4 linked regions of the Homo sapiens genome follow. The protein of the gene in region 4 interacts with the protein of the main gene of each other region in a pairwise test. Each region holds a gene or a part of one and is shown on either strand. Other genes may lie near its edges.

What was found. Proteins that work in one complex are often made in the same cells at the same time.
Region 1: the proteins of BPIFA1 (region 4) and HNF1B interact in binary tests that used the Homo sapiens proteins (3 or more experiments, as listed by UniProt).
Region 2: the proteins of BPIFA1 (region 4) and TCF7L2 interact in binary tests that used the Homo sapiens proteins (3 or more experiments, as listed by UniProt).
Region 3: the proteins of BPIFA1 (region 4) and KRT3 interact in binary tests that used the Homo sapiens proteins (3 or more experiments, as listed by UniProt).

Annotation. Positions count from the first base shown.
Region 1 is NC_000017.11:37,738,560-37,742,059, forward strand, and holds part of HNF1B (hepatocyte nuclear factor 1-beta), read right to left. Parts: intron 1,081-3,500; coding exon 881-1,080; intron 1-880. UniProt on the Homo sapiens protein: Transcription factor that binds to the inverted palindrome 5'-GTTAATNATTAAC-3'. Binds to the FPC element in the cAMP regulatory unit of the PLAU gene. Transcriptional activity is increased by coactivator PCBD1.
Region 2 is NC_000010.11:113,145,747-113,149,246, reverse strand, and holds part of TCF7L2 (transcription factor 7-like 2), read right to left. Parts: intron 3,237-3,500; coding exon 3,150-3,236; intron 1-3,149. UniProt on the Homo sapiens protein: Participates in the Wnt signaling pathway and modulates MYC expression by binding to its promoter in a sequence-specific manner. Acts as a repressor in the absence of CTNNB1, and as activator in its presence.
Region 3 is NC_000012.12:52,793,318-52,797,317, reverse strand, and holds the start of KRT3 (keratin, type II cytoskeletal 3), read left to right. Parts: upstream 1-1,200; 5' UTR 1,201-1,275; coding exon 1,276-1,920; intron 1,921-2,986; coding exon 2,987-3,207; intron 3,208-4,000.
Region 4 is NC_000020.11:33,241,401-33,243,806, reverse strand, and holds the end of BPIFA1 (BPI fold-containing family A member 1 precursor), read right to left. Parts: coding exon 2,338-2,406; intron 1,752-2,337; coding exon 1,688-1,751; intron 1,321-1,687; coding exon 1,280-1,320; 3' UTR 1,246-1,279; exon of another isoform or gene 1,138-1,245; intron 723-1,137; exon of another isoform or gene 701-722; 3' UTR 501-700; downstream 1-500.

The sequences.
Region 1 (3,500 bases), on a different chromosome or scaffold from region 4:
GGAAAAGGATTGGATCAAAGTAATGAAAGTGTAATGTCAAAGAATACTTTCCTAAAATACAGACAGTATGTCATTCCTACTCTTGTTATTCATAGGCAGTTCAAACTTCTCTAGACGTACTTCAAAACAAAAACCTTTTAGAATTATTGGGTGGGAGAAATCTTGGGACAGAAAAAAAACTTTGGGATGGGAATGGGGATGACAAGAATTGATGGGTCAGAGTTCCAAATGCAGATGCTTTTCCTGTGCCCTGCCTTAGCCAGAAATAGCTTCTTCATGAGCAGGGCCACCAGCTGAGGTCCCCACACTCTACCAGTGTTGGTAAATGTGGGTAAACACCTTAAATTGCCTCAGGATTCAATCCCTCCCACTATCCTCCAAGAACAGGGTGAAGTTCTGAATATATCTCTCTATACAAATGCATTCTATTGTTGATACTTTTTCCAGAGAGGAGGAAATTAACAGTAATAGTAATCAATATTATTGACTGCAACGAAATGTCTTCTTTGGAAATTGACTGATGGTCACGTATCAAGGGGAGATGCTGGGTTTTCTCTCAGGGAAGACATTTCACTCTGTCACCTACTTGGTTTCAAAGAGAAGGAGGTGGAAGGAGGGGCCAAAAAGTTTAAGGTATGCTGCATACACTGACAGGCTCCTCAGAGCAACTGGCTGGGTAGCAAGGGGGCTGTGACTGAAGAACATGACAGAAGCCAATCCATTGTACAGCAACCACCAAGGCCAAATCTACTTGCCACCTTCCTCATATCTGCCAAGTGCTCACAAGGCCTTGTCGATGAAAGGGAAACTGAGGCAGCCAATGGGGTGAGAGGGCAAAGGTCACTTCAGGTTGAGGCAGAGGCAGGATGAAAACACTTACGTCGGAGGATCTCTCGTTGCTTTCTGACGTACCAGGTGTACAGAGCGGCACGCTTCTGGGTCTTCATAGGGGTGCCCTTGTTGAGATGCTGGGAGAGGTGCGACTGGTTCAGGCCGGTGACATCGACCACCTCCCTCTGGGGGATGTTGTGTTGCTGCATGTAACCCTTGATCATTTTAGCAGCCCTCCAAGGGTCCTCACTAGACAGACAAGCAGATGGTTAGGGTACTAGTGGGAGACATCTGGGGAGAAACATTCTTTTTCTAGGGGGTGCTACCTATGGTCTATGCAAAATTCTGAATTTTCCCCCCATCTAAGCTACAACTTTGGGGTAGACATGAGGCCAAAATGGAAGCTAAACAGAGGAGAAGGTGACTGCCCCTGTACGGTACACCTCATCCCTTTCTTCTGAGGTTAGTGGGCAAAAGAGGACTTCCCATCTTCAGGAATAAAAAAGCACCACCACCACTCTCTCTTATTAAGCAAAAAGAAAAGCTCTTGTTTTATTTAATTAATTAATTAATTTATTTATTATTATTTTTTTTGATGTGGAGTTTTGCTCTTGTCACCCAGGCTGGAGTGCAACGGCATCTTGGCTCACTGCAACCTCCACCAGGATCCTGGGTTCAAGCGATTCTCCTGCCTCAGCCTCCAGAGTAACTGGGATTATAGATGCCCAGCACCACACCCAGCTAAATTTTTTATTTTTAGTAGAGATGGGGTTTCACCATGTTGGCCAGGCTGGGCTCACACTCCTGACCTTAGGTGATCCATCTGCCTCGGCCTCCCAAAGTGCTGGGATTACAGACGTGAGCCACCGCGCCTGGCCATTTTATTTTGCTTTCCTCCATTTTCCTGCAATGTGGGAGATTTAAAAGGCAGGAGGCCCACTGGAAAGTGGGGATGCCTTTAGCTTGGGGCTGGACTCCCTGATCCTACAATGAAGTAGGGATAGCATCAGTTTCTGAATTTGCCCAATTTTAGCTTCAACCTCTCCTACATTATTTTCCTTTTGAATGGGTATCTCCATTTCTTATAAAACAGGGGTGAAATGTATGTGTTCACCTTCTAAGAAGCAAGGAGGATGTCTTAGCCAAATAGTAAATAATTTTCAGAGTTTTAGAAAAGTTTTCCAAAATACAATGTTGTATCTCCTTGGGACGGGAGGATCACACCACTGAGGTGAGGCAAGTAGTTAAAAAAAAAAAAAATCCACAGCTCCACCTTCCAGACAAAATCTACTGGGCTAATGGGGACAAATAACTTCAATTTCGGACATTAACAATTTTAGATGCTTGTTTTCCTGTATTATGTTTCTCATAAATTTTAAATACTGGATAAGAACATGGTTATACTTTTCATTTCTCATAAACACAGGTGTGTAAACTGCTAGTTTTAGCACCTTTGAATTTTATTTGTCTAGAATGGTTTCAACTTTGCCAATATCTTTTCTTGCTTATTGAACAGATGCTTTGAAAAGAGAGATATAATTTAAAACTAGAAATTAAAATAGTGTGCAGCACAGAACAAAAGTACTAAAGAAGCAATATATACATGTTTACTATTTATTTAATGCAGGTACATATTTAACTTACAAAAACCAGCACCCCATTACTGTATGTTGATATATATATTAGCTTGATAGAACAAGAAAAAAAACGGAAGGGAAAACTAGTTTCAGGTGAAACAAAAAAGAAAACGGTGTAGAGGCTGAAATAGATACAGCATTGCAACATAATAAGCAATTTTATTTCTAAATGGCGCCTTTAAATATGTCAAATAAAATTAATTCTGTTTAATGAATAAAAATCCAGTAATCGAACATATTTTATAAGCATTTGGGTAGTTGTGATTATTTTATTAAGACTTTGATATTAAACTCGTGAGAACACAGGCTTTGATAGAGATGTTTTTGAGAAATGCAAACTTTTTATATTAATTATATATAAGAACGAATTTCTCAAGTATTTACAAAGGTAATTTCCAAGTACACAATATGAGGAAGTAACAAGAAGAACAAAAAATGAGAAAACGAGTTACAGTTTCAAACGTGGAGAATTCACATTAAGAGGAAAATAATGTAATAAACGTTTTAGACATATCCTTGTAAACATCACAGATCATTTAAAAGTTTATTTCTGGTCAATATTTCCACCGATATTTTTAGGATGGAAAAATACTTTCAACGGCTACGAACAAGACTCCTCGAACCTTAGGGGAAAAATTGCATTTTAAAAGTGAATATTGCTTTAGCAAATTCTTCGGCTATTTTTCTTTTGTTTAAATGCCTTTACCTGTGTTCATTTTGTATGCCTAAGAAACCTAGAAAAATAGGGTACTGTTCTAAGTGGGAATGATTCTGTGGAAACAGTGAATTAGCCCAACAATTGGGGAGGGTTTAAAAAAAGCCCCCAAGAACCTTATAAATAATGGCAAAACCTTTTAAGTCCGACTTAAAAGAGTGAGGAGTAAGATGGCGCAGTTATACCTTCACAACCCTCTGACCCCAAAATTCACGTGTGTTCACCGGGAAGAGCCGGGAGAGCTGGTTATTTTTGTTTGTTTGTTTGAAAACACAGCTCAGGTTCAGAGGTTCCCTAACACCGAGAAAGGCACCGGT
Region 2 (3,500 bases), on a different chromosome or scaffold from region 4:
TGTGAAAAACAAAAAAAGCAAAACCCCTTGGGAGACACTTGGGCTCCAAGTGACACCCTGTTCCTTCCCACTGCTCGAAGGCCTCAGAGGAAACAGAAGTTAAGAACATGTGTTCTTGGAAGCCCTTGGGTGAAGTGGTGGGTGGCAGCTTTTACTGTGAATTTTGAAGGCCTGACATTCCTCAAATACATATGTTCCCTTCCTGCAGAATGAGAATATGTGTACAGACGTGAGAGGGAGAGGGAGGGGGAGAGAGAAAAACACTGCATGTGTGAGTGTGTGTGTGTACGTGTGTGTACATACACCAAATACCACGGGAAGGCACCACAATCTGAGTACATTTTGGGGTGCAGACAAACTTCTAATGCAGCCATGAAGAAGGCACATTTCTAAGTTCCCATACCTACGCGTATATTCCCATATCTGAAAAATGTTCAGCAAAGAAAGAGACCATGTGTGAACATGGATGTGGGCTGTATACACATACCTTCGCTTAAGAAATTCCTTTCTGCAGACTACTATTTCATGAAATGCAATAAACACCCTAAAAATTCTAAGCAGCTCATTATATACCCCCGTCTGCTTTCATGGCTCCAAGCCAGAATATAATGATGAACCTTAACTTGTTAAGAACAACTAATTTTTGTTTCTGGCTGTCTCAGGGGCTTCTCTCTTACTCACTCTCACTTTACTTCACTGTTGACACGTTTCTGTTAACCGGATGTCATCTGCCGGCCTTGATTTTATGCACAAGCAGTAGGATGCATTTTCCTGTGCAACAATCCTGCTTTGAGTTGCATTAGGTTTGTCATTATTCTCTCATTTTCCCCCTTGCACTTGTAACATTTCATCTCTTCCTGCCTTATTTTTTGTGAGCCACGGTGCACCCACATTATGGTTTATACATGATCTCGCTCCCTTTGAAGCCGGCAGATTTCAGAGCCGGCTCTCGTCAGGAGAAGAGCCTTGCACCAATTTAGCAGGCTGAGGGCCCGGAGCTCCAACATCTCAATCTAAAGGGGGTCACAGGGTGGCACAAGTGAGTGTCAGCAAGAGCTGTTTAATTGCCAATCTAGGCTTCTCCATGGTGTTTAAAGTATAATGACCCATCACTTAATTCTGAGAAGTCCTGGCCCCACTGCTGAATAGAATGAATATCAAAGGGTGTTCTGGAACAGGGCAAGCTGCCTACATTTGCTATAACTGCCATAAGTATAATAGACCTATACTTCTGTCGCCCCATTATCACAATAATGTATTTAATTTGCTGTATATGCTTTTTAACTAGCTATCTTTCATTTGGCCTACCTGGGGAGTCGGCCGCCTCTCCCCGCACCTTGAGGCCCTAACCTTTCTTCCTGACGTTCCCTGCCTTTCCTCCACCCCCATGCCCACCTATAATTCATCGACTAACCTCCTAATGATAATTCAATCGATCAGCTTAACCCCAATCCCTATCCTACAATTACTTTACCACTGTTAACCTCCAGAACGCACCAAATAAACAAACATGAAAAATAACCAGGTGTAATATACAAATGCTGGGAAGGTGGGAAGATGAGCTGTGGAGTATAAGCTGCTACACTAATAGAATGACATGTAGCCGTGGTCCCTGGGTGCTCTCCACCTGGGAGACCCCCTACTCATTCCCATGCTTTGCGAGGCTGTGATGACACTATTTAATAAGTGTTACGCCTCCTCTTCTCTCTAGGCCAGAGAACACACGAGCGTTTTCCTACCTAACTAATACTGGCATGGATTTTGAAATTTTGATGATATATCGCAGGTAGAAAATGGATCTCTTCAACTATGATATCCACGGCATAGTTACCGATGCTAGATATGCCACGGTTTGTTTTTCTTAATGAATGTAACTCTCTATCACTGCTAAAGTTACTGTTTTGTAAGTAGGAAAAGCAGCATCTTGACCTGTCTTTCCAGGCCCTTCTCTGGTCTTGGCTTCCCATGTTGGCCACAGGGACTGGGGAAAGAAGCTGGGGACAGCACCCCTGCCATGTAACGCATGCTAATTTCATTATGTGCCATCATCAGAATGGGTTGGTGATTTCAGACCATCAGCAAAGTCTAAACCTCCACCGATTTAATTAACTTGACTGAAAATCAGATGAACAGAAAATAAAACTATCATTAGAAACAATTAGCGACTAAAACATACTGCTGCCAACCAGTTTGTAAATAAACTAGCAGTCACTGAAAAATTAGCCAGAATTAATCAGAGGGAGGAAAAGAAGAACATGGGGATAGGAATGTATCTTGTAAATATGTTTCTACGCTGAAATATAAATATATATGAATGTACAGCACACACACACATGTTTTTTTTTAACTTTCAAAGACTTAGAGCTGCACAGACCACTATGATATGCACCAGCCACGTGTGGCTATTGAATATTTGAAATGTGGCCAGTCTAAACTGAGAAGTGCTGTGCGTATAAGATACACATCAGATTTTGTACCAAAGCTCAGCACAAAAAAGAACATAACATCTTATTAATAGTTGTTGTCCAGGAATAGCATGTTAAAATGATAATATTTTGGCTATATTGCATTGAATAAAAACATGTCATTAAAAATAACTTTATCTTTTTTTTAAAAAAAAAAAAACAAAAACTTTTTTAAAAACACGGCTACTACGAAATTTAAAATTCCCTCTGTGGCTCACACTATATTTCTATTGGACAGTGCTACCTTCGAGGGGAGGAGGCGGATGCTTTCTTGTTGACTTGCAATCAGAGTCTGAGCTTTGAGAACACCAGTAATCTTTTTTCGAACTCTTCTTGGTATAATAATAAAACTACCTTCACCGCTACCTTTCTTGCTGAGGACAGGACAACAGAGAAATGGCATTTTTAAAAGCTTCTGTCCTGTTTCTCCCTTACCTTCTTAATTCATTAAAATACATTGTTCAACTGAGTGACTCAAAAATTTTACCCAGAAAGACATCATTTACCTTGGAATTTCAGGGCAATTTTTCAGGATTTTCTGGGAGTACAGCCTAATGCCACATTGGCTTTACACTAATAGAACTACATGTAGCTGTGGTCCCTGGGTGGCTTGGTGGCCATCTAGAGAACTTCTTGAGAAGTCACACATGGCCTTGGATGAAGGCCCCGGTTCTTGGAACTCACCTGGACATGGAAGCATTGACGGTCAGAGCTGTGGGGTAGGGGTGTCTGAATCCTCCTGTCGTGATTGGGTACACTGGTTGACCTTGCCTACAAAGAAGGGGTACAAAGTAAGAGACTTGAAACAAGGGTGGGGGTGGGGACAAGAAAAAGAAGAAAAGGGAAAAGTTCTCTCTGCACAGTAAGCTTTATTCTCATTTGATCAGAACAAAAATCTTGGGGATTGTACAGGAAGGATCAAAGGGAAGAAACACAGAACAATTTGAATGCCATAAATCTGATAGGAATGGCTAATTAAATTTTATAACCTCTGCTTATGTCAATAGAGACCCTCTCCCCAAGCTGAAACTAGGT
Region 3 (4,000 bases), on a different chromosome or scaffold from region 4:
GGAGAGATAAGCAGCTAACTTGGCCAGCTCCAGAGTGTGCAGGATGGCTTTCTTTTGGACAAACCAAGCCCAGTCATAAGCCTCTGAACAACCCCAGACAGGGAGAGTTTCAGGCTTTCGGAGTCAGACATATTCCATAGTGCTGCCGGCTCTGCCAGATCTGGCTTTCTGGGGTTTGTGAGGGGGCATGGGCGACTCTCAGGAGCACATCTCTCAAACAGAAAATGGTCCCACAGGGGCCCTGTGTGTCTTGTCCATGACTGGGTCTCCAGAGTTTTGCAAAGGGCCTGGCACACATTTGGCAGTCTGTAAATATTTGCTGAATTTGTTGTTGACTTGACATTTGAATTTCTTGTTCCCTAGGCCTTAAGCTAAAACCAGAGAAAGGCCAAAATGTGGGGAGCAAGAAAGGAAGCCATAGATAAACCCCAAGATGTGTAATAGTGTATAATTTCTCTGGGAAGTTTTAAAGAGAAACAAACATTAGGCATGTTGGATTTTGCCAGTGTCTGCTCAACATACATAGGTGTTAACTTGACTTTTTCTCCAAAGATAGTCATAAACCAAAAGGTCACTACCTCCTGAACTAAAGCTTGGGGTACAGGGAGAACCCAGGAGGCAGATTTGTGATAGTTCTGGGCTTTTTTCCAAGAAGGGAGAAGGAGAGGTCAGCGCTTCATCCCAAAGGCCAGCGTAGAGCTGGGCACATACTGTGCACTCAGTCATTGTGGAGAGACCTGCATCACTCCTTCCATTAAGATACTTTCCCAGAGCTGTGAGTGGGCTCCACTGTCTCCACTACTCAGAGAAGCAGAACCTCCCCACACCTCCTCCACTCTATCCTCTCCAGAGCTGGGCACCGCTCTGCAGGGCCCAGGTGCAGCTAATAGGCAGAGGGATGGCTGCTGAGCACCTGATGCAGGTGAGCGTGCCTCCTGGGTCCTGTCAGACAGAGCTAGGAGGAGGCCATGCCCAAACATGGGGCAACACCAGGCACCACCCCCTCACCAGGTAAGCCTGCCACCTTAGCACTTTTACCATTTCAGCTTATTTTCAAGGTGTGTTTGGTAGCCTGGAACAAACTTATTGCCTTGGAGGCAAACCCAGCCCATGAATATTTGGGATTAATTATCTCTCCTTCGTTTGAGCCCAACAACCTCCTCAAATGTATATAAAGGGATTTATTTTGCACAGGTCTTCATTTCCCATCCCTCTTCCTCTGACTCTCAGTGTCCCTGCTTAACTTACACTCTTCTCTTCGCCAAGCTCCTTACCATGAGCAGACAAGCCAGCAAGACATCTGGTGGCGGGAGCCAGGGTTTCTCCGGCCGCTCTGCTGTGGTCTCCGGCAGCAGCAGGATGAGCTGTGTGGCCCACTCTGGGGGAGCTGGCGGAGGGGCCTATGGCTTCCGGAGCGGAGCAGGTGGCTTTGGCAGTCGCAGCCTCTACAACCTGGGCGGCAACAAGAGCATCTCCATCAGCGTGGCAGCTGGCGGCTCCCGGGCTGGAGGCTTTGGGGGAGGGCGGAGCAGCTGTGCCTTTGCAGGTGGCTATGGAGGTGGCTTTGGGAGCGGCTATGGAGGTGGCTTTGGTGGTGGCTTTGGTGGTGGCAGAGGAATGGGAGGTGGCTTTGGTGGAGCTGGTGGCTTTGGAGGGGCTGGTGGCTTTGGAGGGGCTGGTGGCTTTGGTGGTCCTGGTGGCTTTGGTGGGTCTGGTGGCTTTGGTGGGCCTGGCAGCTTGGGCAGTCCTGGTGGCTTTGGCCCTGGGGGCTTTCCTGGGGGAATTCAGGAAGTGACTATCAACCAGAGTCTCCTGCAGCCCCTCAATGTGGAGATCGACCCCCAGATTGGGCAAGTAAAGGCCCAGGAGCGGGAACAGATCAAGACCCTCAACAACAAGTTTGCCTCCTTCATTGACAAGGTAATGAAGCTTTGACTGGTCATCCCTTCCTGGGCTGGGGACTTTGAATTTGACCTTTGGGACACAGTGTTTAAATGTTTCTTGGATAGGCCAGACTGGAGGGTGAGGAGTTAGGTGGAACTCTAGGGTCTGGGAAGATATCCAGGGTTGAGGAGTTTGTCTACATGGTCAAGTGAGGGGAGGTGTAGAAAGAAAACAGTCCCCTATTTGGACCTGAGCACCACACATCCTGTTTGTGGGAACCCCTGCTGAAGTTTCCAGTCATTGCCTCATTGAGGCCCAGGCTGGCAGGGCAGGCAGCCCAAGGCAAGGGCCACAGCCACCATCAGCGAAGGGTCCACCAAGAATGGGAGGCTTTTCAAATACAAGCTGCCCTCTGAGGCTTTCCAGGAAGCCCTTTCCCCCTCATATTGCTGTGCCAGGCAGAGGAGGCTGATTACCTGGAGCAGGGATTAAGAGCATAAGAACCTTAGTTAGTCCCAAGGGAGCGCAGAGAAATGAGTGACTTTGCACTCCTACTCAGCCTAGTCAGGAAGACAAGAGTGCTCGGTGAGCTTCTCCAGACCAGGACAGTTCTCATGGGGCTGCCTCCCCTCCAGGCCCAAGAGAGGTGTTGTCATGCTAACTGTGGCATGCCAGCCAGTGTTGCTTCCCAGCTTCCCAGCATCACTTCACTGTTTTTGAAGAGCTAGCATGTCAGTAGAGTCGTGGGTGGAAATGGTGCTGCTGAGGTTTATGTGCATTTTTGTAGAGTGTACTGTGGTTTTGGAAGTTAAGATAGGGTCATGAAGTTCCCAGGAACAACAAGCAATAATTCTATTGCTTTCAGGTAGGAGCTACTTCCCCTTCCTTTGTAACTTTCCAAACCACGCTGCAAGTGTAGTGTCCTGACTCATCACCCATCTGATCATAATCTCTCTGACTACAGTAGGAGCCTATCTTTGCATCTTTTCTAGGCCTTTGTGCTGGGGGCCCAGGAGATAGACACCTAGTCCTACCTGAGTGAAGGCCCCTCTGCTCCTCTGCTACAAGTGTTGCCTGATGTTGCTTCCTGCAACCATTGCAGGTGCGGTTCCTGGAGCAACAGAACAAAGTCCTGGAGACCAAGTGGAACCTGCTCCAGCAGCAGGGCACAAGTTCCATCTCAGGCACAAACAACCTTGAGCCTCTTTTTGAGAATCACATCAACTACCTGCGGAGCTACCTGGACAACATCCTCGGGGAGAGAGGGCGCCTGGACTCTGAGCTGAAGAACATGGAGGACCTGGTGGAAGACTTCAAGAAGAAGTGAGTGACAGGGCAGGAGTGGGAAGATGCCATGGCCCACCCTGTCTCAGAGTCTTGGCCCCTTCTACATGCCCCCTGACTGCTGGGCAGTGGCGTCTCCTGGCCCATTTCCCTCTCCTTACCTTCATGAAGGACAGCTTGGTTCATTCAGTTCCCCCTCACCTTCCTTCTCCAAGCATGGTGCTTTGCAAATAAAATTGTGGCAAGAGGATGAGTTTAGGCTGGGCTTGGTGGCTCATGCCTGTAATCCCAGCACTTTGGGAGGCCGAGGTGGACAGATCATTTGAGGTCAGGAGTTCAAGACCAGCCTGGCCAACATGGCGAAATATCATCTCTACTAAAAATACAAAAATTAGCTGGGTGTGGTGGCACACACCTGTAATCCAAGATAGTCGGGTGGCTGAGGAAACAGAATTTCTTGAACCCTGGAAATGGAGGTTGCAGTGAGTCAAGATTGTACCACTGCACTCCAGCCTCGGTGACAGAGCGAGACTATGTCTAAAAAAAAAACAAAAACAAAAAACGGATGAGTTTAGAGTTGGGGAAGCATTTCCTCATGAGCCAGGTTGGGGAAGATCCTGGTTCTGGCATGTGAAAGATTCTGGGACAACTCATGGTATGGTGATCAACCATCCAGAGGTTTGCCTGGGACTGAGGGGTTTCCTGGGATGCAGAAATTTTAGTGCTAAAACCAGACAGTTTGCCTGGGCAAATTGACTTGGTTGGTCCCCCAACTAACAGGGAGATAGTAAAGAGGATGTGCTCATCTGAGAGGGGCAGGATAGGGATGGAG
Region 4 (2,406 bases):
ACCTCAGCCTCTCGAGTAGCTGGGACCACAGGCACACACCACCACCCCTGGCTAATTTTTGTATTTTTGGTAGAGATAGGGTTTTGCCATGTCAGTCAGGCTGGTCTTGAACTTCTGCCCTTAACTGATCTGCCTGTCTTGGCCTTCCAAAGTGCTGGGATTACAGACGGGAGTCACGGCACCTGGCCTTCATTGTAGTTCTAATTTGCATTTCCCTAACACAAATCTGCCATTTTCATTCGTGGTGCGGCAAACTTGTATGTCATTAACTGTACCTGGAGTATTATATCTACCCTGAATGCCTTATTCCCCCTTTCTAAGGACACCTGGGAAAGCCTTCTGAAATCCACACACACTTGAACATCTCCCTGACCTGCTCAAGACTATTCAGATCTACAAAGTAAGTGCCAAACTCTATGCTATGGGCCCAACCACCCAGGCCAGGGCTGTTTCCAACCCAGGAGCCCTCAAGTAATGGTGAAGGATGACAAGGCCCCTGATGCAGAAGAAGAGCCATTTTATTAGGTGAGGCACATGGGATGTTACACACGCCTGGTGGGAAAGGAGAGGGGGCAGGTTCCTCGGAGAGAAGGCAACTGTGTCATCTTCCAGCACATGGGCCAGCCATCTGTGAGCACTGGGAAGCTGGGCCAGAGGAAATGGATTGAGCAGCAAGAAATAGTTCTGTTGGGGGAAGACCCTAATCAGGATGGAGACTCAAGGTCAGTGAGCGTTACTGATATTGACTCATCATCAAACTCATGCCCCAGAGGGACAGGAGGAGGCTGAGACCCTGGGCAAGCCATCAGGCCTGGAGTCAGGGCTCTGTGAGCATGTGTTTGAGTGAGTGTGTCTGTGTATCCACGTGTACTTATGTGTGGTGAGTCCACTGATGTGTGCATATGTGTGAGGGTGCTGGGTGAGAGTGTGTGTGTCTGTGTGTGGTGAGTCCACCAATGTGTGCATGTGTGTGAGTGTGCTGGTGTGAGAGTGTGTGCATCTGTATCAGTGGCCATGTGTCTGGGCATTTGTGTGTGTGTTTCTCTTGGTAGCTGTGTTGCTGTGCTGCCTGCATCCTTCCACCTCTGTCAGCTTTTCTGTGGATTTCTCTGTGCATCCCTGTGTGTACCTCTGTAGATGTTTGTCTCTTTCTTTGGATGTCATTGTCCCAAGCTCCCGTCTGCCTTCTACCAGGAGAAGAACAGCCAGCCCCCAAAACCCTGGGGTGTGGGGAAGGGCACTTACCAGCTCAGCAGAGGCCAGCCCCTTCCTGGAAGGCTTAGACCTTGATGACAAACTGTAGTCCGTGGATCAGCATGTCTAAACAAACAAACAAGCAATAAAAAAACAGACGACAGTTATGATCTCAACGTGAAGGAGTCCATATTCCTCAAGGTGGGGGGCCAGGGAATGGAGGCCTCTGGAGATCCGACTGTGTTCAGCATGCTTGGAGGAAGCCAGGCCTCCTTCTACCAACCAGCCCAGCTGTCCTCAGTGTCAGGGCTGAGGCAGGAGACACGGTGTCTATCTCAAAATTATCTGGATTATTCGGGGGAAAATGAAGCCCAAAATAGAGAGAGTTGAGGCCAGAGGGACCTAGTATCCTAGGGTGTGCAGGGAAAAAACTCCTTGGGGGAAGTTGCTGCTCCTGCAGAGAGGGACAGAGGGCTTGAAAGCAGGTACTTACTAACAATGTCATGCACCAGGGTGATGTCCAAGCCTCTGAGAACCTCATTGACCAGAGGGCACACCTGGCCAGGGGCAGAGAGGAGAGTTAGGCAGAGTGGCACCCTGGAGCAGCAGAATCCCTAGTGGGGGTTCTCTGGGGAAATTTCCTGTCATTTTTCTGTGTGAAAGTGATTCTAAGCAATCCCACAGATCAATGGTCACACATGCCTGAGGAGAAACTGGAGGCATGAGGGATGTTGTGAAGGGCCCCAAATCACACAACAAGCCCAGTGTTCACCCTGTGACATCACATCTGATTCTAAGTGGAGTGGAGTGCCCTGGTTATAGGAGACACCCAAGCATAGGTTGAAAGACTGTCTGTGGCCATAGAAGGCTGGACAGGGAACTTCTCCAATTTCTCAGAACAGGGGCCAATCCATTTCAGCTTCAGTGTGGACAAGCAGGGCCTGGCCTAGAGCAGAGACTCATCAATGCATTTGGAAAGATGTAAAGAAGAAACATGGACAGATGGATCAATGGACAAATAGATTGATGAATGGAAGTTACTTATCAAATTGAGGGACTCGGACCCACTTAGCTCAGGGCTTTGTTTTAGTGCAAGAAGCTCTAAAACCTGAGGATCAGGGGATCCCCACCTTGCCTACTTACGTTGCCCTGAACCAACTCAGGCAGGACTTTATTCAAGATCCCTGTGAGGCTGTCCAGAAGACCTTGAAT